Linked DNA regions of Homo sapiens: regions 2 and 3 are each linked to region 1. A link means that fine-mapping ties the variant in region 1 to the plasma level of a protein whose gene starts in the linked region. Region 1 holds a variant in brackets. A gene starts in each other region. All regions are shown on their forward strands.

Region 1 (8,175 bases):
GAGAAGCCAGTACTCACAGAGATCATGGGATGAGAGAGAATGTAAGAGAGGGGAGAGGTACCAGGCTCTTTTCAATCAACCAGCTCTCTCGAAATGAATAGAGTGAGAATTCACTCACTCCCAAGGAGGTCATTAATCTATTCATGAGGGATCCATCTTCATGACCCAAACACCTCCCATTGGGCCCCACCTCCAACATTAGAGATCAAATACGAGGTTTGGAGAGGACGAACATCCAAACCAAGGCAGAAGTATTCGGTGAAAATACATGCTGGCTGCTCGCAGAAAAAAGCAGAGATCTTTGCCTAGGCATTAAGAAATCCGTATCGATTCTCAAACTCTTCTTGGGGCCAAATTCACTCTAATCAGTCTATTTTCTGCTACTACACACGCCTCATTCATTCAAATTGCTTTTCATGGCCTACTATGTGCCAAGCTCCAATAAGGGCTCTCACACATACTTCCTCATTTAATCTTTTTAGCCACCTTTGAGAAAAAGATGAATATTTACCCTGTTTTGTAGGTAAGGAAATGGAGGCACTGAGAGGCTGAGTAAATTGCATGTGGTTGCTTATTTAAGAGGGTAGAGTTGGGATTTGAAATCAAGTGTCATGATACTAAGGACTCTTCCCTGTATTTCTTTCATACCTCTTTTTATTTGCTCACACTTTTCCCTTCACCTAGAATGCTCTTTAGCCCATTACCCACTGGAAAGACCCCTACTCATGATGCTTTGTAGCTTCTCCAGTCTTCTGCATTGGGATTAATAACTCCTTAGTTTACCCTCAGGAACCTTCACATATACATCTGTCAACTTTCTTACCATAGTTGTCATAGTTGTCAGTTTCACAGCTGTCAGTTTTTGTTCTTTTGCTCCCAGTAGACTTTAAAATTGGTGAGTGAATACTGCAACCTATTCATTCCTATAACCTCCAGCAGAAACACAACGTTTGCAAAGAGAAGGTACTCTGCAGATGTCCACTGAAGTGTTTTGTGGAGATACTAGGCAAGTACATCAGACTGAGAAGATGGTGTTGGTTGCATTCATAGGGGAGACTGGAGGGTTGGAGGATTATTTGTCCTTATCTCAGACTTTCAATGAAGTATGATTATAATACATATTCAAGTATCACTCTATATTTTTGAGATCACATATGACAGCTATAAAAGCTAACGTTTACAGGACATCTGCTATATGCCTGATTTTTATATATATATATATACTTAGTTTTATTTATATGTTTTATATAAATATAAATATATGTATGTGTGTGTGTGTGTGTGTGTATATATATATATATATGCTGTAATATGTATTATTATCCCCTAATTTTCGGGTGGAGAAACTGGCTGGAACTTTTCTGGAATAAAGTGGTAAAATAACTTGAAAGTTGCAGAAATGATATCTAACCCAGGTCATCAGGAATCCACAACTACTCTCTTCCCACAACTGTGTGTTGCCTACAGTAAGCATGGAATGGCAGAAATGCATCGAGAGGCCCAACGTTAGCTTTGTGGTTTCCTTCTGAGAAGGGAAACTCAGTGGACTCACGTATTGCAATTAGCAATGTAGGGACAAGGAAGTTGCCATACAGATGCTGCAACATTCCATAGCCCAAGTTGGGGTAGGGGAGGGGAGCTGTTTCTACCATCATCCAAGGCATTCCCTGGACTTGTGCGGCACATACAGCCGACTACAAAGGTGGGAGACTCGTGGGTGGGAGACTCGTGGTCTAGGGGAACTCTCTCAGTTCTTTTCTCTGTACTGCTCCCACCTGGGAAACTCAGAAATCTCTTGAGGCATCCCTTGTGTGCTTCCTTAAGTTCCCTCCAGCCCAGGCATATATAGCTTCCTGTGAGCCGCACACACATACACTCCAAGTCTGAAGAAAAAAGGATGCATCTATCCTGGGGATTTGGCTTGCTCCTGATGCAGGCCTCATGATATCATCTCTTGCCTTCTCTCCCTGGGGCAGATTCATGATCTCTAATCCCCCAGGGAGTTTGTTCCATGACGCTGGTTCTGATTCAATAGTGTGGGGTAGGGCTTGAGATTCTGCCTGTACAGGGAGCCCCTAGGTGATGCTCAGGCATCTGGTCCCCAGACCCAGTTGAGTAGCTAGGTTTTAGGGGTTTCCAACAGTGGGTAAAATTTCCCTTCCTTCCTCTGTCTGGGTCACTCCAGGAGGCTCAGCAACCCATCCTTTATCTATATATTTTTATCTATACCTATAATCTCCTTTGGCAGCCACCAGCACTGTGATTAATAAAAACTCACAAACTGTAATTTTTACATGATTTAAAAGCCAAGAATACCAACTGCTTCTTACTTTTTTTCTGCACTCTGTAACTTAAAAAAATTAGAAAAACATCCACAATAAATAGTAAAAACCCATTCTGAATGTAAGCTTCTAATTAGTCCATAAGCTCATATAATTTTTTTATATTTAATTTTTATTAGGTTTTACTTTAAAGTAAATAAGGCATTGTTGACTAAGCCTTAGAGACTAGGATGATCTGTAGACTTTGAACTCCTGTTAAAAGTTATGAAACTTTTGATACATTCTTAAAATATCCCCACCCCCCTTGTATAGCACTTAACCCTTTATTAAATACTTTAAAGGGAAGCAGGGAACTAACATTTATTGAATAGCTACTCTGTCGCAGGCAGTGTGTATTACTATTTCCAGTTTACTGAAGCAGCTAAGGTTAGAGATGTAAAGTGATTTGCCCAAATCGCATACTCATGGGGCAGAGCTAAACCCCAGGACATCAGATGCTGGCTCCAGGGTTCCCTCTTCCCCGCCTGCCCCCACTGAAGCGAACCATCACAGCACACGTTAGCTCCACCTGCTCGGGTCCACACGCAGTTTTGCTGTGGCCCTCAGTAGCCTCAATTTGAGAATCTTCAAGCCTGGAAGGTTTGCCATGGCCAGGCAGTCAAGGCGCAGAAGCGACAGGGGCTCCTTTCTCTAATACACAAAATATCAGGAGAACCCCCAGCCAGGTTAGTTTGTTTCTTTCCAGGTTGAGAAGTGAATCTGTAGCCAGGGCACACAAATCTTCATGAAAAATTAATTCGTGTATGCTGACAACCTGGGCACTCACACCCCTGGCAATTGCCTCCTTATCCCATGTCTCAGGCCATGAGCAAGAGTTTGTTTTCAAGTGACACATGACGGCTGGACAAACATTTATGAAACCCCCGCAGAGTGTGCATCTAGCACCTGCTTGTAAATGTTCTGTTAACAGCCTGGACCCAACTTTCTGGGGGCTCGTGGAGCTGGCAGGGAGTGAGGAGGACGAAGGCTGCAGCCCTCACCACAACCCAACTTACTGGTAAGAAGACTGGTGGTTCCTGAAGAGTGCCAGTCCCATCCCCAAGAGGGTGAGCGCAATCAGCTTCGCCATGGTCGGGGATAGACAAAGGGATCGATGGGCGCAGACACCGACGGGCTAGGAGGCTCTGCCTGCCTGCAGCCGCAGCCCTGCTGGGGCAGCGCCGATTGGCCCGCCCC[G/A]CCCCTCCCCGCCGGGTCGGCAGCTAGCTGGGCCGACCAGGTGCACAGAAGGCGTGGCTTGCGGTCAGCCCCCACCGCAGGAGCTCAGCACTTTCAGCCAAAAGTCCCATTTTGCTCCTTCCAACTGTAAAGAGAGAAGACAGAGAATAGGTGCCTAGTCCAGTCGGGGAGGGGAAATCAAACAAGCTGAAGTAAATTGCCATGGGAAAGGACAGTCAAGCTTTGGTGAGCACTCACTTTGTGCCATCCCGGTCCTTGCGTCTCAGAGAGATTCAGTAGCTTGATCATGGTGACAGCCAAAAAGGTGCGGAAGGGAGGGCTGTAGTAGGAACCCCTAAGATCTAACTGTTCTCACCAGGCTACTACTCTGTGTCACCTTCCAACATCTGGATTTCAAGCATTTTTCTCTCAACACCACTCTGACTTTAGAGTTCACTCAAGTACATCCCCCACACAGCTCATTCATTTCCTCATGCAGCTGGCATTTATTGAGTACCTACTATGTGCCAGGCGCTGTTCTAGATGCTACAGAACAGGACAAAACGTCTTCCTCAAGCTTACGTTCATTCCAATGGGGGGAGTCAATTGAGAAATCAGCAAAACATGTCACTGTGGCATATATAATGCTCTAGGTGATGCATGTGTGTGTTATGGATATGCACATATGTTATGGAGAAAACACATAAAGCAAGAAAGGGGATAAGGAATACCCTCTGCTGAAGAATAGCAGTCAGAGAAGTTCTCACTGATAATGGGGCATTTGAGTAAAGACCCAAAGGAGGTGCCTCTGTACAACCATGTCTCTCTTCTCTGCTGTCTGCTGTTACTGTGAATGATTTGCTCCATGTCTCTTTCCTTCTCAAGGCTTTTGGTCCCAGTTATACCTTCTCTCTTCTGCAATATCTGTCCTTTCATCTCTTGTGGAATATTGCCAGCCAATACCAACATGCTTTACTTATCACCTTTAGCTTTCTGGGGGGAAGCTTCTTTGGCCTCACATTGTAACTACTGCCCTCTCTCTCTGCTCCTTCTGAACACTTGCTCTTAAGCCTTGAGCTACTATGTAAAAAACCTGACCACTCCACTGGAGCATTCACATGAAAGGCCATGAACATATGGAGAGGGAAAGTGGTCAGCTGAAGCCAACCTCTTAACCATCGGCACCAAGGAAGCAGAAATGAATGAAGTGGGCTATTAGACAAGCCCAGCCACCACAGCCTGGCCACCAACTGAATACCACTGGCTAAGCCACCCTGGTTAACACCAGGTGGAGCAGAAGAATCTACCTAAGAAGTAGAACCAATGAATCCAAAAGAGAAGAGTATTCGAAAAGAGGGGGAATGATGATCTGTGTCCAATGTGGCTATGAGTTGAGTATGCTTATGGCAGAGAAGTAACTACTGAATTAGATAACATGGATACAATAGGTGGTTTAATAAGAACAAATTCTACACGAGTCAAAAGAACACAAACCATATTAGAATGGGTTAAGGTGAGAATGGAAGATTGGAGATATTTCACAAGGTTAGCTGCTAAACCAAACAATCATTTTCTTATGCTCATAAACAGTGCATAAGGAATTTGGGCAGGGCCCAGCAGGCTACCTGGTTGACATGCCCACTGGGGTGTTTAACAGTCTTTTCAAAATGTGTCCAAAGGAAAACTCTTAATCCCCCCTGCCCAAACTCACACTTCAATAAATGGCATCACTACCATCCAGTTGCTCAAGTCCAAAATCTACATATCTTCTTTCATCCATCTCTTTTCCTCACACCCTCTTGCACCAAACAGATCAGTCAGTCCTATAGGCTCTATTTTGTATTAGTTATCGTATGCTGCATAACAAATTATACTAAAGTCTCACCATTAAAAACAACAAACATTTATTATCTCATCATTTCTGTGGGTCAGGAATTCAGGCATGGCACAGCTAGATACCTCTGGCTCAAGGTCTCTCATGAGTTAGCAGCTGAGCTGTCAGTGTGAATTGCCATCTTATCTGAAGGCTCAACTGGAGTGGGTGAAGGAGGTGAGATCAGCCTCCAAGATTACTCACACAGCTCTTTAGAGACTTCAGTCCCTTGATACTTCAGTCCCTTGATACGTGGGCCTCTCTACAGAACTACAACAGAACAAGGTAGCTGACTTTCACTAGAATGAGCAATCTGAAAGAGTGAGATAGCATGCCTCCAAAATGGATGCCACAATCTTTTATTAACCTAACTTCTGAAATGACATCCCCTAACTTCTGTCATATTCTGTTTGTTAGATGCAAACTGCTAACTCCAGTTTACATTCAAGGTGAGAAGAATTAAACTTCACCTTTTGAGGCTCCCCTTCATATGCCTTGAGGCATATTGATATGGTTTGGATGTTTGTCCCCTCCAAATCTCATGCTGAAATGTGATCCCCAATGGTGGAGGTGGGACAGGGTAGGAGGTGTTGGGTCATGGTGGCAGATCCCTCTGAATTGTCTTGGTGCCATCCTCATGGTAATGAGTGAGTTCTCTTGCTCTGAGTTCACGTGAGATTTGGTTGTTTAAAAGACTATAGCACCTCCCCCCACCCCCACTCCCTCTCTTGCCATGTGACATGCTAGTGATGCCCATCACCTTCCCCCATGATTTTAAGCTTCCTGAGGTCCTCACCAGAACCTGAGCAGATGTTGACACCATGCTTCCTGTACAGCCTACAGAACCATGAACCAATTAAAACTTTTTTTATATAAATTACCCAGCCTCAGGTGTTTATAGCAGTGCAAAAATGCCTAGCCCACATATCAAAGAATGTATAGATAGCTCTTTGAAACCACTACAACTTTCAAATAATCTTGAATCAACCCAATTTTCCCCATTTCCACTGCCATTACTCTGGTTCAGGCTGCTATCATCTCCAGGCTAGAACAGATTCTCCATTGTTCTCTCCCTAATCACCCTCCCCACAAATCCATTCTTCTTACCAAGGCCCACGTAATCCTTTAAAAATGTAAATCAGATTATATCATTTCCATGCTTAAAATCCTCCCTCTTGTGGCTTCTCATTTTATTTTCTTATTGTGGCCTGAAAGGCCCCACAAGATCTGGGCTGTGCTTATCATCTGACCTAATTTCTTATAATTCACTCAGCATAACGTTGCAGCAACATTAGCTTTTGTACCATTCGGTACACACACCAAGTTTATTGCACTTCACCATCATTGTCTTTGCTATTCTTTGGCTAGAATCCTCTTCCCATCCCCCTGACTTAACTTCCCAACTACCCCTTGCATTTCTCTTTCTCTTCATTCAGGTCATAGCTTAAATGTCACTTCTTCTGAGAGGCCTTTCCCAATATTACCATCTAGAGTAGACTTCCTCCACACCCTCTTCTCCTGAACCCTCTCTCTGCACCAGTTACTAAGACCTCAGTGCTGATATCAAATGGTTAGCACCAGTACAGAATTACTGGTTATTAGAATAATGACATATTTCTACAGTGGTTGTTAAATAACCACTTCCTCAGACCCTCCAAGAGGTCCTCCACAATACTGACCATTCTCTCTTCCCTGGAATCCTCCCTCACTTTACCATGATCTAGCAACCAAGGTATTATTTCCTGGCACAGTAGGGTCTCTAGGATTCTTCTCCCAAATAGTGTTTTGTTCAGCTGGGACTGAACTGACTGATTGAGGCTGTGCCATACCTGGTGTTAAGGACTCTATCACCACTGTCTTCACAGCACTCCATAGGAAATCATCTTCCTACTTAATGCCACCTGCCTTCCCCTACTAGCATGTAAACTTTTAGAGGTCACAGACCTTAACTTGCTAACTACCTTCTCTCTAACTCCTAGAACAGTTTCTGGCACATAGTAAATGCTCAAATATTTGTAAAGGGAAGGAAAGTACAAATGAATGGCAAGGGGTTGGGGATAAAGGAGGCAGGAGGAGCAGGGATTGAAAGATGGTTTGGGAGTAGACTAGAGATGCCACTCTCTCCTTTTCTGACCCAGTTGTCCTATGGGCCTTAAAGAACCCAAGTGGTCTTTCTTGCACAAAAATCCATGGTATTTGTTTGAAGTCACTGACTATTTGTTCTCTTTGTTCTCTTTTACCTCTTTTCACAACCAATCTTGTCCTCCTTCCTTCCCTTAACCTACTTATCTCTTTCAAATCCAAGAGCAAAGGTTTCCCATGTCAATGCACACTTTGAAATGGTCTGCTTTTTCTGGAGCTCTTGCTCTGGGCTTTTGTTTTCATTTGCTCTTTTGCCTGAAACACTGTCTTTCCATAAGCTTTTTATTCCCCATTTTAAAATACAAACGTCTTTATTGAGATATAATTTATATACAATAAACTGCACACATTTATAATATATAAATATAATTATATGTGTTTATAATTCAATATATGTCATTATATATAAATCAATAAGTTTTGGCATATATATTCACCCATGAAAACATCACAGGCATCAAGGTAATAAATATATCCTTTGCCTCCAAATTTCTTCATGCCTATTTGCAATCCCTCTCATACCTACGTCCACCCCACTTCCCTACAGATGTATTAGTTATCTACCATCATGTAACAAACAAGCCTGAAATGTGTCAGCTTATAACAACAAACACTTATCACCTCTCACTTTCTGTGGGCCAGGAGTATGACTACAACTTACCT
Region 2 (8,175 bases), not on the chromosome of region 1:
TGACTACTATGTTGCCCAGGCTGGTCTTGAACTCCTGGGCTCAAGAGATCCTCCTGCCTTAGCCTCTCAAAGTGTTAGGATTACAGGCGTGAGCCACTACATTTGACCTTAATATCTTTGGGTTATATGTTTTATGAGGTTTTTTTGTTTTGTTTGTTCGTTTGTTTTTAAGAGACAGTGTCTCTTGTTGCCCAAGCTGGTGTGCAGTGGTGCGATCATGGCTGACTGCAGCCTTGAACTCCTGGGCTACAGTGATCCCCCCACCTCAGTCTCCTGAGTAGCTGGGGCTAAAGGCATGCAACACTACGCTCAGCTAATTTTTTGTTTTCATAGAGACAGGGTCTCGCAATGTTGCCCAGCCTGGTCTTGACTTCCTGAGCTCAAGCAATCTTCCTGCCTCAGCCTCCCAGAGTACTGGGATTACAGGTGTGGGCCACCGTACCCAGACATGTGTGCTTTTCTGACCCAAGGATGATCCAGAAGCAGAAGTCCCTACTGTAAAATTGCTCTCCCAATCCTGGGATATAATTTTGAGCCCAGAGAACAAACCCATGAATCCATGAGAGGACCGCAAAGCCAGGTCCTCAGAACTTCTCTGCAGTCCCAGGAGAGCATCCTGCGCTCCTGCCCCTGTAAATTTCCCTTCTTTTTCCCCGTTGGTACACATTAGACCTGTGATTCTCCACAAGTGCACGGGAATCACTGAAAACCTTGTCAGATACAGCCAGTATGGGAGGGTAAGATTCTGCATTTCCAACAAGCCCCCAAAGTGCTCCTCTGATCTCACTTTGGGCAGCAAGACCCCAAGAGGGCATAACGCAGGACTCTGACATTCGTTACTCAGTCTTCAAATTCAGAAATTGCAAACAAGCACCCCTAGATATGTCTTTTTGTCCCCATGGAGTATGAGAGGCAGTGGGAGGGCAGGCCTTGTGAGCCCTGCTCACATAAGGGACTGGAGGAGCACTCAGGCCTGGGGGTCCCTGCTCTGGCTACCCTGTGCCCTGGGTCTCCCAAAACCTGGTCTCCTGCTTTCCAGGCCCTGCCCAGCTCCTTTGCTTGCTGACAGGTTGAATGCCTCCTCCTTCTCCCCAGAAGAGAACCCCCTTCCACTATTCCAGTGGTCAAGATTTGTTTACATACAAATGTCTAAACGATAAAATGGCATTATAACAGTGTCAGGACTGAACAGGCAGAAGCCACCTGGAAATGGGGAGACGGAGCGCAGAACCTGATTTATCCAGTCACCATGGTCCTGAAAAGCTATCACACAAACAAAATGACATAGATAGCTAGATAGAGATATACAGAGAGGTTTTTTTTTTTTTTTTTTTTTTGAGACAGAGTCTGCTCCGTCACCTAGGCTGGAGTGTAGCGGCGCGATCTCGGCTCACTGCAGCCTCCGCCTCCCACGTTCAAGCGATTCTCCTGCCTCAACCTCCCGAATAGCTGGGACTACAGACATGCACCACCACACCTGGCTAATTTTTGTATTTTTAGTAGAGATGGGGTTTCACCATGTTGGCCAGGCTGGTCTTGAACTCCTGGCCTCAGGTGATCTGCCTGCCTTGGCCTCTCAAAGTGCTGGGATTATGGGCGTGAGCCACTACGTCCAGCACAAAATGAGATATATTTGAAGTACATATTAAAGTAACCAAAGGAAATAATTTTACAGTAAAATCTTACAAAAAGCTCAAAATCCTGGTGTAAAATATCTAATCACCTTTGAGCTTAGTTCTGGTTTATATCCAGCTTTTCATCTGTCAATTATATTGGAAAAAGAGAGGCACTGCCCAGGTCTCAGGAGGGCCCCTTTGGAGGCTGCAAGGAACCTCCCTTTCCCCGGGCGTGAAGACCCTGAGCCCTGCCATGCTTGGTCTGCAAGGCTGGCTTCCAGGCCAGCACCCAGACACCACTCCCAAAACAGGTTTTCTGCAGTTTTGGGTCTGCACTCTCAAAACAGTTTCTGCACAGCAAGAAAATGCATGTAGAAGTGGAAAGAAGGAAGGCAGGAAACAGATACATAACCACTTTAGCTCTACTGGCTTCCCCCCCCAAAAAAAACCTAGCTTCCGACCTGCTCCGAATGACTTGAGGTGAAAATCTACAGAGGCTAAAGAGATGTCCTTGCAAAAATGCTACTTCCAGCTCTACCTGCTCCAGCCAGGCCAGCATCAATGTGAGAGGAGAGAGAGAAATCAATTAGGCAAATAGTTAGGGCAAGGGTCCTTGGCAGAATTCCCTTCTAACAAAAAGCAGCCTAAGAAGTCGTTGCCCTTTCAGGAAACACAGATAAGGAAGGCAAGCTCTAACACAGAAAGCGGGTCCCCTGTGTGACATACAGACATATGGTGGGCCCCAGTAAGCACAGTCCTCTCCCTTCTTAGAAATACTCAAGACACGGCCGGCCACGGTGGCTCACGCTTGTAATCCCAGCACTTTGGGAAGCCGAGGTGGGCAGATCACGAGGTCAAGAGATCGAGACTATCCTGGCCAACATGGTGAAAACCCATCTCTACTAAAAAAATACAAAAATTAGCCAGGTGTCATGGTGCTCGCCTGTAATCCCAGCTACTTGGGAGGCTGAGGCAGGAGAACCACTTGAACCCGGGAGGTGGAGGTTGCAGTGAGCTGAGATCACACCACTGCACTCCAGCCTGGCAGCAGAGTGGGACTCCGTCTCAAAAAAAAAAGAAAAAAGAAATACTCAGACACAGAGGCTTGCATGGCACTGATAAGAAGAGCTACCCTGGACCAGGCATGTCTACCTTGGAGTGTTCTTCCCCCCCACCACCCAACCTTTTTCACACATGCACAGTAGGAAGAAATAAGCAACATGGAGTAGTAACTCAGGCTAAGAAGCCCACATGTGCACTAGAAACAGTGGGGCGGGGGACTCAGAAATTCGCACCTTATGTAAATGAAGCACCCCTCCCACCAGCTTTTCTATAAAAACCCTTGCATTTCACTGTAAAATGGCAACCCATCTTTCTGGGACCCCTCTCTGATCCAGAGAGCTTTCTTTCTTTTGCTTATTAAACTTCTGCTCTAACCTACCCTCTGGAGTGTCTGCGTCCTTGATTTCCTTGGCCATGAGACCCAGAACTTCAGTGATATCTCAGACAATGAGGCAGGTTTCACTGAGACACAAGCCCAGGGTTCTGCAGAATGGGAGGGCCAGCAGCTATCACTGCGTGTGTGAGGGCAGGCAGAGGAAGTCACTGTGTTTTAATAGTCCAGCACCACGGGTAGAGATGTTGTGGCTGACTCCATCCAAGGTTCAATTTCTTTGTAGTAATCATTTCAGAAGTTAGAGCATTAACAGGCTCTTGTTGGGGAAGAAAGGTTAGTAACTCCATCTCCTGAGCCCTTGCTAAAAAGCTCAGCTTCCTGAATTCTCCAGGCTCACCAGATTGAGAGGGAAGCCCACCCTGCTCCTTCTCCCACCGCAAGGCTGCCTTTGTCTGTAAATGACAGGGAAGTGGGTGAGGAGGGAGGATGGGGACAGACCTTAGGGGGTGGGAGTGTGGCTCCCCCTCCCCCACTGTATCACACCTATTTCACACTCAGATTTATCCACATACCAGGCCTTGATCACAGGAAGCCCATCTGCCAGCCACAGGGAAGGCAAATGCCAACTGGAAGCCCCGGTTTCTTGCAGGCGCCCAGGCTGCTCTGACAGGTACAGAGAGACGGAGACAAGCCCATCTCACCGAGAGCGGCCTAGCTTTCTGAGTTTGGACCAGATTGTAAGAGATAAGGGAGAGGAAGGCTTCAGATAGCTATGAAGAGAGCTATCTGACCTCCAAGTACCCTTTTCTTTAACAAAAAATTAGATCTGGCTCTTGTCAACATTGACCTCCCACCTCTCCATACCCCAGCGCAAAGGCAGTAGGTGGATCCCACCAGCAAACAGTTTTGGATTAGCTCATAGTTGTTGTTTTTTTAAAACAAATTAGTTGCCAATATTTAAAAATCAGGAGATTTTGCATGCACCTCAGATTCCTGATTTCTCCTGAAAAATCAGAAGACCAGATCACATTGGACCTGCCATTCTGTGTAGCAATGGAGGCCAGGGCTGAGCAGGGGCCGTCCCCTGCCCACCCCCATACAGCAGGGCCCTGCCCTCCCTACCCCAGCTCCTCCTGGCAGCATGCACCTTACCTATCTACTTGATCAATAAACAGATCACTTCAAAGCTTCTCAAAGTATCCCTCTTTCTTTTTTTCTTTCTTTCCTTCCTTCCTTCCTTCCTTTTCTCTTTCTCTTTCGTTCTCTCTCTCTCTCTTTCTCTTTCCCTCTCCCCTTCCTTCCTGCTTTTTGTTGTTGCTGGTGTTGTTGTTGTTTTTTCCAGAAACGCAGTCTCCCTGTGTTGCCTAGGCTGGTCGGGAACTGGCCTCAAGCAATTCTTCCGCCTCGGCCTCCCGAGTAGCTGGAACTACAGGTGCTATTCCAAGATGGTGAAACCCCGTCTCTACTAAAAAATACAAAAATTGGTCGGGGTGGCTCACGTCTGTAATCCCAGCATTGCAGAAGGCTGAGGCAGGTGGATCGCAAGGTCAGGAGTTTGAGATTAGCCTGGCCGATATGGTGAAACTCCGTCTCTACTAAAAATACAAAAAAATTAGCCAGGCTTGGTGGTGTCGCCTGTAATCCCAGCTACTAGGGAGGCTGAGGCAGGGGAATTGCTTGAACGAGGGAGGTGGAGGTTGCAGTGAGCCGAGATCGCGCCATTGCACTCCAGCCTGGACAACAGAGCAAGACTGTCTAAACAAAAGCTCAACAAACTACCTGCCATCCCCAAAACTAATCTCACCTCCTAAAGCATTAACGACCCTTCCTGACCAAATCTAAACTAGCGCCCAGATTTTCTTCCCATATGGCTCAGCCCAGCTCCGCTGCCCCACAGGTGTCCTGTCAGGATCCGCTTCACATTTATAATACCTAGCACCCCACCCCCAGCCCCGCCCCTGCCCCACCAGCCACCCCCACTCTACCCCACCCCTACCCATCACATTCCGCACCCCACCCCCGCCAAACCCACATCCCCACCCCACCCAACCTCACCCACTCCCACCACATCCACCACCCGCACCCCACCCCCACCCACCACACCCATGCCTACGCCACTCCTGGGTGACAGCGAGCCAGGGCCCGGGACTCTAGTCCCAGCTCTGCTGCTTACTTGTGTGACTTCAGCCTCTCCATGCCTCAGTTTCTCCATAGGGACAATGACTACACTAACAGTGTCCACCCCGGCACCGGGAGGGCCGGGCTCCCGGCAGGGCGGGGACCCTCTCCCCAAGGCACTCCCGGGTCTCCAGGCCTGCTCTTGGGGTGCCCCCTCCTCTCGCGGGGCGCGGCCTGGGAGGCGCCCCGCCCCGGCTCCGGGCGCTCCTTTACCTGGGGGAGCGGAGGTCTACGCGGCGCGCTCGGCGATCAGACGCGGCTGCAGCCCGGGCCTGGCAGGCCCCGGGCTCCCCGCCCAGCTCCCCAGCCCCGCGGAGGGTCGCGCAGGCCTTGGTGGCGGCCCCGGCGCTGGCCCCGCCCTCCGTCCCACCTTCCGGCTGCGCCGGGCCTTCCGGGAAGCCACGCGCCGGGCCAGCTCCTGGCTCCGAGCTGCGCCCGGCCTTAGGGGGAGCCGGGGGTCGCTGCTGGGCACCCCCTCCCCGGTCCTGGCCCACCCCGCCGCTGTCACCGGGGCCCTGGCTTGGGTTGCGGGTGGCGTAAGGAGACGAGGCGCCCGGAGAAGAGTCCTGGGAACCGCAAGGCCGCGCTCCCGCAGGCCCAGCCCTGCCTTTCTCCCACGCGCACGCATGATCACATCCGGGCCCCGCGCACCTGCCTCCAGGACCGCGGGGACCTCCCGGAGACCTCCCTCCCTTTGGCCTGGAGGACCCCTCTCTCCCCGCAGCCTGGGCACAGAAGAGAGCACAGGGGCATCTGGAGGTCAAGGGTGCTGCGTCAGTATTTGGTGAATGTGTGGGCCGGAGCCAGATTTCCTCTGTTCCAGAGCCTGCTCTGGAGCCTCTGGGTCTGGGGGTTGCAAAAGGAGAAGCAGGTTGGGTGGGACTCGTAATCCCAGCTGCCAGTGAGGCTGAGGAGGGAGGATTGCTTGAGCCCAGCAGTTCGAGCGTGGGCAACACAGTGACATCCCATCTCTACAAATAATAATAAAAATTAGGCCGGGTGGGTGAGTCATACCTGTGACCTACAGCATTTTGGGAGGCTGAAGCGGGAGGATTGCTTGAGCCCAGGAGTTCGAGGCTGCAGTGAACTATGATCCCACCACTGCACTTCAACCTGGGTGACAGAGTGAGACCGTCTCTTAAAGAAAGAAAAAAAAGGAAAAGAACTGGCTTTGCTCTTAGGAGTCTTGGATGGGGACCAAAGCTGAGGCAAGGCAGCCTCTTAGGAAGGTGCAAAGGGCATGAGGCTGGGGTTGCAGAACTGCCTGGGAATACTACTTTATTGAGGCCTGTGGAAAGCTGTCCCTACTCTTGTCATGCAAGGTCTGGCCTTGAACCATCTCAAATCCAAAAGTGGCTTCTGGGGGGCTCTATAGAGAATTAATCCTAACAGGAACCCTGCAAAGCAGGCATGGTTGTCACTGCTATATTACAGATGGGAAGCTCTAAACACAGGCTGCTCTGCCCAAGGCCATCCTGGTTAGAAAGTTTCAGGGCCCAAACTCCAGCCTCGGTCTCGGTATCTCAAAGTCTCCGCCTGTGACCAGCACTCTGCCTGCTTTCCAGGGTGCCATGGGCACCCAGAGGACGGACCCTTTTCCATTTTTAAAAGAATGGAACAAACGCTCTTAATACCAAGCTTCCCCAGGCCTTGGCTGGGATAAAACAACCCCATTTATTCCTGAATCGGAGCTTTTGCTTGAGTTTGGGTGACTTTCAAGAGGGAAAGTGAACTGAGGCCAGGGGAACTCAGCTTGCTGCCTTCCTGGGGCCTGAGTGTGGCGCTCCCGTTTCTCTGCGGGCAGCTCCCTCTGGCGGCACATTGCAGAACTGGCCTGCAGACTCCTCCCCCAGAGATAGTGGGGAAGAGGGCCTGTGTAGGGAAAGATGCTGGGAGTGAAAGAAGCTTCAAAGTCCAGGCCCTCCAGAGAAGGCAAGCATGTAAGAGGTTCATGCAGCCCAGCGCGGTGGCTCACACCTGTAATCCCAGCACTTTGGGAGGCCGAGGCGGGCAGATCACCTGAGGCCAGGACTTTGAGACCAGCCTGGGCAACATGGTGAAACCCCATCTCCACTAAACATGGAAAAATGAGCCAGACATGGTTGGTGCAAGCCTGTAGTCCCAGCTACTCGGGAGGTTGAGGCAGGAGAACCGCTTGGACCCGGCAGATGGAGGTTGCAGTGAGCCGAGATCGCGCCATTGCATGCAAATCTGCAACCCATCAGCCTCCTGGGCCTCATTCTGATACGAATGCAGGCATAACATGACCGCACACTCTGAACCCCAGAGATGGAGCACACAGTGCCTCATGCTCCTAAAGGCAACTGCGGCCTCCTGCACAGTGAGCAAGGCGTGCCGTGGGGTCTCGGTGGTGGCGCGGAAATGGCACTGGCCCAGCACACAGCGATGCTTTATGCTGCTTACAGTGACCTAGGGAAAGTTCTTCCACGTCTCCGTGCCTCAGTTTCCTCATCTGGGAAATGGCAACAAGAGTAGTACTTATCCTATAGGGTTGTTCTCAACATAAAAGGAGGTAATATATATGAATCTAGATTATTCTTGTTTACATTACAGAATGTGAAAATGAGCGGCTTCTCCAAAGTCCCATGAGCCTCATGGGCCCAAGGTAGTGGGAAATCCAGTTCTACCCCCACCTTGACAAAACATTCTCTTGCTGATGGGCCCAACAATGCCCTAGGGTGCTAGGTGGTGTTCACACGGCCAGCCAGAGTCAAAACTCAGACGGGGCCAGCGTTCTATGCCCTCACTTTCTCCCAAAGCTGAGTGCACCAGCTCCTAAAACTTCCATGGCTCCTTCAGGCTAAAGCCACCCACCTAGACCAGGGCTGGATGATCCGCAATGTGGGCCACACCCAAAAACCCTATAGCTTCTTTTGTTGTTTCTTTTTTTTTTTTTTTTTTTTTTTTTTTTTTGAGACGGAGTCTCGCTCTGTGGCCCAGGTGGGAGTGCAGTGGCGCAATCTC
Region 3 (8,175 bases), not on the chromosome of region 1:
ACCCTGCCCGCCGCCCCGGGGACGGCCCGGCCAGGCGGCCCCGACGTCGCCATGGAAACAGCCGGGGCGCGGGCGGCGCCGCGGTCGCCCGGGCGGGCCCCTGTAGACGCCACCTCCGGCGCGAGGGGCCCGGGGGCGCCAGGCCTGGCCCGGCTGCCCCGCACCCGCCACCCCCGGCAGGTGCGCCCCGCCCCCGCGGCGCCCCCAGGCGGCCCCCAGCCCGGGGGACGGGTTATCGAGGCCCCGCCCCGGCCGCGGAGCCAATGGGCGCGCGGACAGCCGGGCAGGCGGGGCTGGGCGCGGGCGGCGGCGGCCCGGAGGAGAACGGGCGGAGGGCGCGGGCCGACCGGGCGCACCGACCATGGCCTCCAAATGCCCCAAGTGCGACAAGACCGTGTACTTCGGTGAGTGCGTGCCCGCTCCCGGCCCGCTCGGTGCATCCCGCCGCCCTTCGCGGCCAGTCCCGCGCCGCAGAGCCGCGGCGTAACTCGGGGTGCGCCCGGCCCCGGCCCCGGACCGAGGATGCGCGTCCCGGAGGCTGGCTGGCCGCGCTGCCCAAGCGGCTAAAGCCAAAGGGTGGGGCTGCGCGAAAGCGGGGGCGGTCACGCCCGAACCCCGAAGCGGCTTGTGGGGGCGGGGCAGGGACCACCCGGGCGGGGCTTGTGGTGCCCCGGGATGAGGCCAGTGTTTGGGGGAGCGCTCGGGGATCCGCGGACGCATCCCGGTTCCTCGGACGGCGCCGGGCGGGGCGGGGCAGGGCGTGGCTGTACGCCCCGGGTGCGTCCCGCGCGCTCCCGTGGGCCTGGGCCCTTTCTCCTGGACCCCCTACACCCGCTTCCCCCGGGAACAAGTGGCCGGGAACAGTGACCCCCAGCTCCCACTCCGGGCTCCGCTGAGCTGGGCTGGGCCAGGTTTGGACTCTGTCGGGATTCAGTCCAAGCGGGGGCGACCTTGGCCTCTGCCTCCTGCTTGTCCCGACGCATTCCCTTGGCGCCAGTTCCCCCAGGAGTTTCACACGGGGGTAGGGTGGGGGCGGGTGTGACACGCGAGTTCCCGCGAACGTGAGAGGGACCTTGTGCTCAAGCAGCCCAGGTGTCCAGGATCCCTGCCTCCTCAAGGTCAGAACAGCCCTGGACAGGATGCAGGTGGTGGCGGGAAGAGGGATGTCTCGCAAGGCGGCCCTCGGTCTAGCCCCTCCGGCAGGCGCGCTCCCCCCGTCTGGGCTTACTCACTCTCTGGGCCTGGGTGCGCCCTTCCTACCCCCTTCCTCCTGGCTGATTCGCTGCCCAGCTTTCTCCAGGGTGGTAAGGTCCCTGCCCACCTACCCACCAGCTGCTGCACGAAGGGGGGCAGACTTAGTGAAGCAGAGAGGAGGGCCGGGACCAACAGGGCGCCTGCCCTGGTCGCCCCATACCCAGAATGCGGCCAGGCTGCAGGGAAGGCCGCCACTGGGCTTCCCCGGCTCACAGGCTGGAGGGGGTTGAGGGGAGGTTGTATTTTGCCCGTCCCAGAGGGGAGGGACCGGATTTGGCCTGGAGTGCTTCTGGCGTGGCTGGGAGCCGAGGGGCTTCCGGCTGCCTCTCCTGGAGCCCGCTCAGCCCTCAGTCTCTGTCCCAGCGAGGGCTGTCTCTGTAAGGCTTAGGGTGGGAGACGGTCCCCAGGGCCCTTCTGCAGTCCAACTGCCCATGACTTTACCCCAGGCCGGGCCAGGCCAGCCTGGGGCTCTCCAGGGTCTCGGCCAACAGTCCTGTGGACAGCCCGGAAAGGCCTGCCTGCCTGGCCCGCCCAGCCTCTCAGCGGAAAACAAAGGCGCTTCAGACCCGGCTGGCTTCTGTCCTGCCTGGGAGGCACTGTGAGGGCGAGGGTCCAGAATCCTGCCCACCCTCACACCAGGCTGCCCCCGCAGCTCATACCTGAGTAGAACCCAGGCTGGGATGTCGGAGCACATTGAGGAGGCCACCCCAGAGCCCATGCAGCCAGGGTGGGCAGCTGGTTTTCTTCTGAGCCATTAGACCCAATCGATTCTGTGTTCCCAACTCGGACCCGTAATGTGTGGCCATTGACCCACCCAGTGGGTCTGAGGGCCAGTTCCCTGCCCCCACTTGGCCCACGTCCCAGAGCTGGCCAGAGCACAGTGCTGGCAGCCCTGGGCTGCAGCTGCCACGGCCGATAGCCACCGAGACTTCCTTGCTGCTGCTGGGACACGCCTGCCCACCGTGCAGCCAGCCCCTGCCTGCCCTGGTGTGTCCCAGCTTCCTTGAGTGGAGTGGTTCTGGTCAGAGGGCTCTAAGCTGGTGCAGCCTTGTGGTTGGGCTGGTGTCCTGGAGGCTGGCCCTGGCCATGCCCAGAGGGTTGTACCAGGGCCACGGAGAGCCAGTATTCACAGCCCTCTACCTAGTAGGCCACCTGGGGGATCCCATCTCACTGCCAGGAGCAGCACCCTTGGGCCTCTCAGAGTGGGCTTCGCCCTAGCCAGATGCCCCTCCCCGATATCTGCCAGACAAAGGGGGCTGGGCCACTTGCTGAGAAAGGGAGCTGGGAGAGCCACTGGTCCTCGGCCACCTGAGGGGCTTGGCCAGATTCTGCCGGGCAGGGTGGGCCCAGCCTGCATGCTCCCTCCCCCCAGGGCCTGCAGCTTGTCCCCTTCCCTTCAGAATTCCGGCTCTGCTGGGCCCTTCCTGCCCCTCCCCACCTCTTCCTGCCTGGCTCCCTAGGGAGGCCCCTGCTTCCATCCACTGGGAAGCAGTCCAGTAGCCCCAGTGTGGGGGTGGGAGGCAGTGGCAGAGGGTCCCGGACCCTCAGCAGCTGCCCTCAGATCTTCCATGCCAGTGGCAGCCAGGGGCATTACGGCGGGGGGAGAGCTCAGGGTTTAGGACGAGGAATCCACAGACAGATGAGGGTCCCGCCTGGAGGACCCACGGGGACGGGGCCTGGCCTTCCCATGAGGGAGCTGGAGGTTCTGGGGCTGCACCTTTGACTCAGCAGCGGGGTGCTGCCAGCCCCATCAGGGCCCAGTTGGTGGGGATCAGGGGCGTGTCAGTGCGAGGCAGGTGTGAGAGGGAGAGCAGCATGTGTTGAAGCAGGTGCACTGCAGAGGCAGGTGTGTGAGTGTAAGAGAAGTGTTTGAGGGAATGACAGGTGGGGGAGATGCATATGTGTGGGGGGAGGCAGGTGTGTGGGGGGAAGCGGGTGTGTGTCTGAGGAAGCGGGTGTGTGTGGGGGGAAGCGGGTGTGTGGAGGCGGGCGTGTGGGGGAGGCGGGTGTGTGTGTGAGAGGAAGGTGTGTGGGAGGAGGCAGATTTGTGGGGGGAGGCGGGCGTGTGGGGGAGGCGGGTGTGAGGCGGGTGTCCGGGAGGCAGGTGTTGGAGCGCGGGCAGGTGTTGGAGCGCGGGCAGGTGTTGGAGCGCGGGCAGGTGTTGGAGCGCGGGCAGGTGTTGGAGCGCGGGCAGGCTCGAGCACAGGCCCCTTCACCGCAGGCACTGAGGGGACTAACAGGGCAGCCCCGGGCCCCTTCTCAAAGGCGGCTCTAGCGGGGTTCCAGGGCTGGGGGCGCTGAGACCCAGAGGGAGAACAGGGCCTGGGGGCGACGGGCTCCTCCGGGTCTCAGAAGGAGGGGCAGGGCCCGCCAGGTGGAAGGAAGGCGCCTGGGAGACCTCCTGAAAGTGGGGACCCCCGGAGCGCGTGGGGGTGGTGGCTGCCAGGTGGGGGCGGAGGGGGTGCGGGGCGCGCCCCGGCCCTGACCCCCCTGCCGCCCCTCCCGCTCAGCCGAGAAGGTGAGCTCCCTGGGGAAGGACTGGCACAAGTTCTGCCTCAAGTGCGAGCGCTGCAGCAAGACGCTGACGCCCGGGGGCCACGCCGAGGTGAGCCCCACTGCGCGGCGCGGGCGGGGGCGGGGGTCGCGACTCCCGCCACCCTCAGGCAGGGTCCTGACCCGCGCCCCTCTGCGCAGCATGACGGGAAGCCGTTCTGCCACAAGCCGTGCTACGCCACCCTGTTCGGACCCAAAGGTGAGCTCCGGCTGCCCTCGGCCTGCCCTGGGACCTGCTGGGAGGGGCGTGGCGCTGGCGCTGGGGAGGGCTGGGGGTCCCGGCCGCCGTGGATCCCCGCCCAGAGTCCCTGCCACCCTGGAAAGCCTAGTGCCCCCCAGTCCCCAGCGGGCCGTTTTCTGAGATGCCCGGTGGCCGCGGCCCCCACCCCACGTACCCCCGCCCCACGTACCCCCACCCGCAGGCGTGAACATCGGGGGCGCGGGCTCCTACATCTACGAGAAGCCCCTGGCGGAGGGGCCGCAGGTCACCGGCCCCATCGAGGTCCCCGCGGCCCGAGCAGAGGAGCGGAAGGCGAGCGGCCCCCCGAAGGGGCCCAGCAGAGGTGGGCTGGGCGCGGGCTGGGGCTGGGGGTTGTGGGCACGCGCGGGCTGGGGCTGGGGGTTGTGGGCACCCCCGGCCCCGCCCCGCCCTGACTCGTGCGCCCCACAGCCTCCAGTGTCACCACTTTCACCGGGGAGCCCAACACGTGCCCGCGCTGCAGCAAGAAGGTGTACTTCGGTGAGTGCGCGCCCGGGCCCCGGACCCCCGCCCCCGCCCCCGCCCCGGGGCTCGGCCTCACTCCTCCCCCTTTCCAGCTGAGAAGGTGACGTCTCTGGGCAAGGATTGGCACCGGCCCTGCCTGCGCTGCGAGCGCTGCGGGAAGACACTGACCCCCGGCGGGCACGCGGAGGTGAGGGGAGTGCAACGGGGCTTGGGGGCCGGGCAGGGGCGCGGGGTCGGGGGGATGAGGGTGAGAGGCGCGCCTAGAGGGGATGGGGGGTGGTGCTTCTGGGAGCTGCGCTGCCCTCTCCCCCACGGCGAGCCGGCCTGCACGTTCTGGAAGCCTCCAGGTGATGGGTCGGGGGAGTCTGTGGACTCCTCCCTCAGCACCCACCTTCTGCCCCAGCACGACGGCCAGCCCTACTGCCACAAGCCCTGCTATGGAATCCTCTTCGGACCCAAGGGTGAGTGTAGCCAGGGTGGTCCACGATGTCTTCCCTGCCCTCCCCTTCCCTCCACTGTTCCCCCGACCCACCCCAGCGGCCTCCCTCCACAGGAGTGAACACCGGTGCGGTGGGCAGCTACATCTATGACCGGGACCCCGAAGGCAAGGTCCAGCCCTAGGCTACAGCGGCTCTCATGATGTGGGCTCACCTGCGCCCCAGACCCTGCAGGGGCCCCCCTGCTTGGCTCTGCTGGGAGAGTGCTCAGCCGCCCAGTCCTGCCTGCAAGCCCAGGGCGAGTATTGGAGGAGGGGCAGCCACGGGCAGAGCACCATGCCCATCCCCGAGTCTCTGGTGTGTCTGCCCCCTCTGGCATCCTCTGGGCGTCCCATGATCCCTTCTGTGTCTGCGTGTCCGAATCCCCGTGTGACCCTGTCCCAGCATTTTCCCGCCGACCCTGCGTGTCCCCGTGGCGCTGTCCGCTCTCCCTCTCCTGCTGCCCACCCACCTGCCAGTGTTATTTATGCTCCCTTCGTGGGTGATGGCCACGCCCTCACCATGTCCCTGGCAGAGGGCTTCCCTCCGGGATCCCCTGCCTGGTGCCCACACTGCCTCGCAAGCGCTCGCCACCCTCACGTGGCTCACCTGCTGTTGAGCCTTGTGCTGTCAATAAACGGTTTGAGGATTGCAGGATTGTCTCTGCTTGTGGGATGGATGCAAATCCCAGACCAGGGTCCCTTTCTCCGGTCCATGCGTGCTCCCAGCCAACACCCCTGGGCCTGGCTGCTAGTGGGGGTGGGCTCTTCTCCTGGGGGTCATAGTGGGAGGTGGGGCCCTGGGATGTTTCTGAGCAGGAGGGAGGGATGGGGGCGGGGAGCGTGGTCTCCGGTTTGGGTGGTGGTGCCCACCCAGATGGGGAGGCAGTAAGAACGCCAGGCTGTGGGGAGGTAAGGAAGGTGGGAGGCATTCCGGGGCCAGGGTCCTGGCCAGGGTCAGGTGAGGGTGGGGTCCATGGAGGACAGAGCCTTGGAGAAAAGTTGAACCTAGAACCCTGAAAATACCAACAGCAGGCCTGAGAACCCGGAGCTGCCTGGGTGTGTGGACCCTGGCAAGCGCAGGAGGGGTCCGCCCTGAGAGCAGAGTGTGGCTGAGGAGGGAAGGGGGCCGGGGACCAGAGGAGGGGTCCTGGGCAGAGAATGGGGAAGCCGGCGAAGGTCGGGTGGGACAGAGGTCTCTGGCAGCCCCAGACTGGACTGGGATGCGCAGGAGGGTTTGGGGGCTCTGGTCAGAGCAAGGACTGGAGAGGCTCAGCGTGGCTGTTTCCAGCTTTTGTCCATAGGGTGATGGACAGGCTTTTGTGGACAGGCCTGCCTTGGGTGTGGCCCAGGGACAGAATCCCTGCCCAAGTGTTCTGGTGAAGGTTTTAGTGATGACCGACTCGCCCCTGGCGTCTTCATGGTCCAGGCTCTGCCCTTTCAGCCAGGGGCGCTGGCGGCTCCAAGGAGCTCTCCCCTCCCCCGCGCCCCGCCTTTGCTGTGCGCCACTCCTCGGGTGCCCACTAGAGGGCGCACTGTCCCATTCTGGCAGCACAGAGCAGAAACGTGGAGACCTTCCCCAGTGGCTGAGCCCTGTCCTGGCGCCATCTGGACTTCCCACCTTGGTTTATGCTCCTCTGCTCCTGGCACCACACCGAAGTTGCCTTGGCCCTTCCTTCAGTGAGGGGCACTCAGACCTGGCCACCTCCAGGCCCCTGTCCCCAGTGCTACAGGGTGGCCGGGGCTTTACGCCTCTTCCCTGCTCCCAGCCGTTGGCACAGCTCCCTGCCTGGCCACCCTCCAGCCCATGGGCTCAGACGGAGCTGAGCCTGGATGCTGAGCCCATTGTCCCGAGAGCAGCCATCCATGTCCTGGCGGGGCCTGGGCTGGCTCCGGGGTCCAGCCGTACCACAGCTGCCCTCCAGCCAGGCACCCAGTGCGGTCTCCTCCCACCTGGAATTCAGCCAAAACCCCCGGGGCCTGACGTTGCGGAAGGGACGGCCAGTCCCCAACCCCAGGCAGAGGGGAGGATCAGGCAGGTTCCAGACCCCTGCTCACAGGAGAGGCTGGGATGGTTCCCCTTCTCATCCCCTCCTGCCAGGCCCAGGCTTCCTTGTGTGTGTTGGGGGGTTGTTTCGGGAGAACTGAGAATTTCCGGAGTGCCCGTCTCCGCCCTTGCTGCGGGCTCCCAGGGTTGCATGGGAAATTCCTGCTTTCAGCTTGGCGGGGCGGGGGGCGGGGGGGGGACTGGAGGGCTCAGCTGGACCCCCCTCCCTTGGGAGCCTCCAGTGGAAACTATGTCGTGAGGAGAGTGGTGGGTGGTGTGCCCTTCTCTAAAACCTGGGCGGCGGTGGGGGATTTGTGTGCCAGAAGACCTTCCAGGGTCGGTTGCGGGGATGATGTGGGTAAGGGGTCTCCTCCAGAGATCAGCCCCTGACCCCGCCAGGGACAGCAGCACCCCCGACCCCAGGTCTGGCTGGGGCAGGACCATTTCCTGCGGGGCCGGTTTGAGGATGACGCCTGCCTGCCGTGTTTGTTTCCAAGTCATTGTCATGGAAACCGGGGCGGTTGTTGCTACTGTTTGTCTGGACTGCGTCGCTAGGCGGTGTTGCTGGGGTTGGCTGGGTGCCCACGGCACTAACAGGGCTCGCTTGGTGTCTCCAGCTCCAGGAAGCTATGCCCTCCCAGCCGCCTGCCAGCCAGGTGCTCCCTTGGGTGCCCACAGACCCAGATATCCCCTAAAAGGGAGGGGAATCTGGAATGGGCTCTTCTGCCTTTGGGCGTGCCTGCTTCTCTGTCCCTGCCTTGGGGGCTGCTCTGCCCTCAACCTTCACTCTCTTCTACTTGGACCTATGCCTGGCCAGTGAGGCGGCTCTGAAATGCTATCTGCTCCATCCCTCCCCTTCAGAACCCCTGGGAACCAAGTCCAGGGATCCACAAGGCCCTGGTGCCCCATGGGGCTAAGCTCACACCCCGGCGCTCTGTTGAACCGAGCTGTGCCGCTCCCCGTCTGTACCCCCACTGTCCAGTCTTCCCGTGTCTCCTGGCCAGGTCCCTCCAAGGTATCCCCCACTCCAACCTGGGCTGGTGGGGCCCTCACTGGTGCCCCCAGCCAGGCATCTTTGTGGGGCCAGCTCAGCCTGCAGCTACCCCTGTCTCCACTTCTTCT

Direction of the effects. Alleles are on the strand shown, and positions count from the first base shown. The strength of an association depends on the size of the effect and on how common the allele is.
For the plasma level of the protein whose gene starts at base 5,540 in region 2, G is the low allele of the variant in region 1 and A is the other (moderate association).
With allele G in place of A in region 1, the plasma level of the protein whose gene starts at base 320 in region 3 is lower (moderate association).

Evidence for each region. PIP is the chance, under the fine-mapping model, that this variant and not a neighbour inherited with it causes the effect. Protein levels are from antibody-based Olink assays in UK Biobank. Linkage for the fine-mapping came from a reference panel and not from the study's own genotypes, which makes the PIPs less certain.
Region 2: C19orf12 starts here. The variant in region 1 is fine-mapped to the plasma level of the C19orf12 protein (UK Biobank, PIP above 0.99).
Region 3: CRIP2 starts here. The variant in region 1 is fine-mapped to the plasma level of the CRIP2 protein (UK Biobank, PIP above 0.99).

Annotation. Positions count from the first base shown.
Region 1 is chr7:95,321,065-95,329,239 of GRCh38, forward strand. It overlaps PON1 (paraoxonase 1), which reads right to left and starts at 3,468. Exons shown (of 9, transcript NM_000446.7): 1 at 3,338-3,468. The coding sequence starts at 3,411. RefSeq lists a silencer at 3,412-3,591. The variant G/A (reference allele first, on the strand shown) is at 3,519.
Region 2 is chr19:29,709,722-29,717,896 of GRCh38, forward strand. C19orf12 (chromosome 19 open reading frame 12) reads right to left here and starts at 5,540. Exons shown (of 3, transcript NM_031448.6): 1 at 5,404-5,540. RefSeq lists a silencer at 5,075-5,864 and enhancers at 6,035-6,134, 6,680-6,899.
Region 3 is chr14:105,474,502-105,482,676 of GRCh38, forward strand. It overlaps CRIP2 (cysteine rich protein 2), which reads left to right and starts at 320. Exons shown (of 8, transcript NM_001312.4): 1 at 320-404; 2 at 3,765-3,859; 3 at 3,949-4,006; 4 at 4,230-4,370; 5 at 4,478-4,546; 6 at 4,624-4,718; 7 at 4,935-4,992; 8 at 5,085-5,661. The coding sequence starts at 362. The coding sequence ends at 5,152. RefSeq lists silencers at 1-52, 233-342, 6,426-6,575 and enhancers at 6,316-7,037, 6,706-6,815, 7,596-7,915.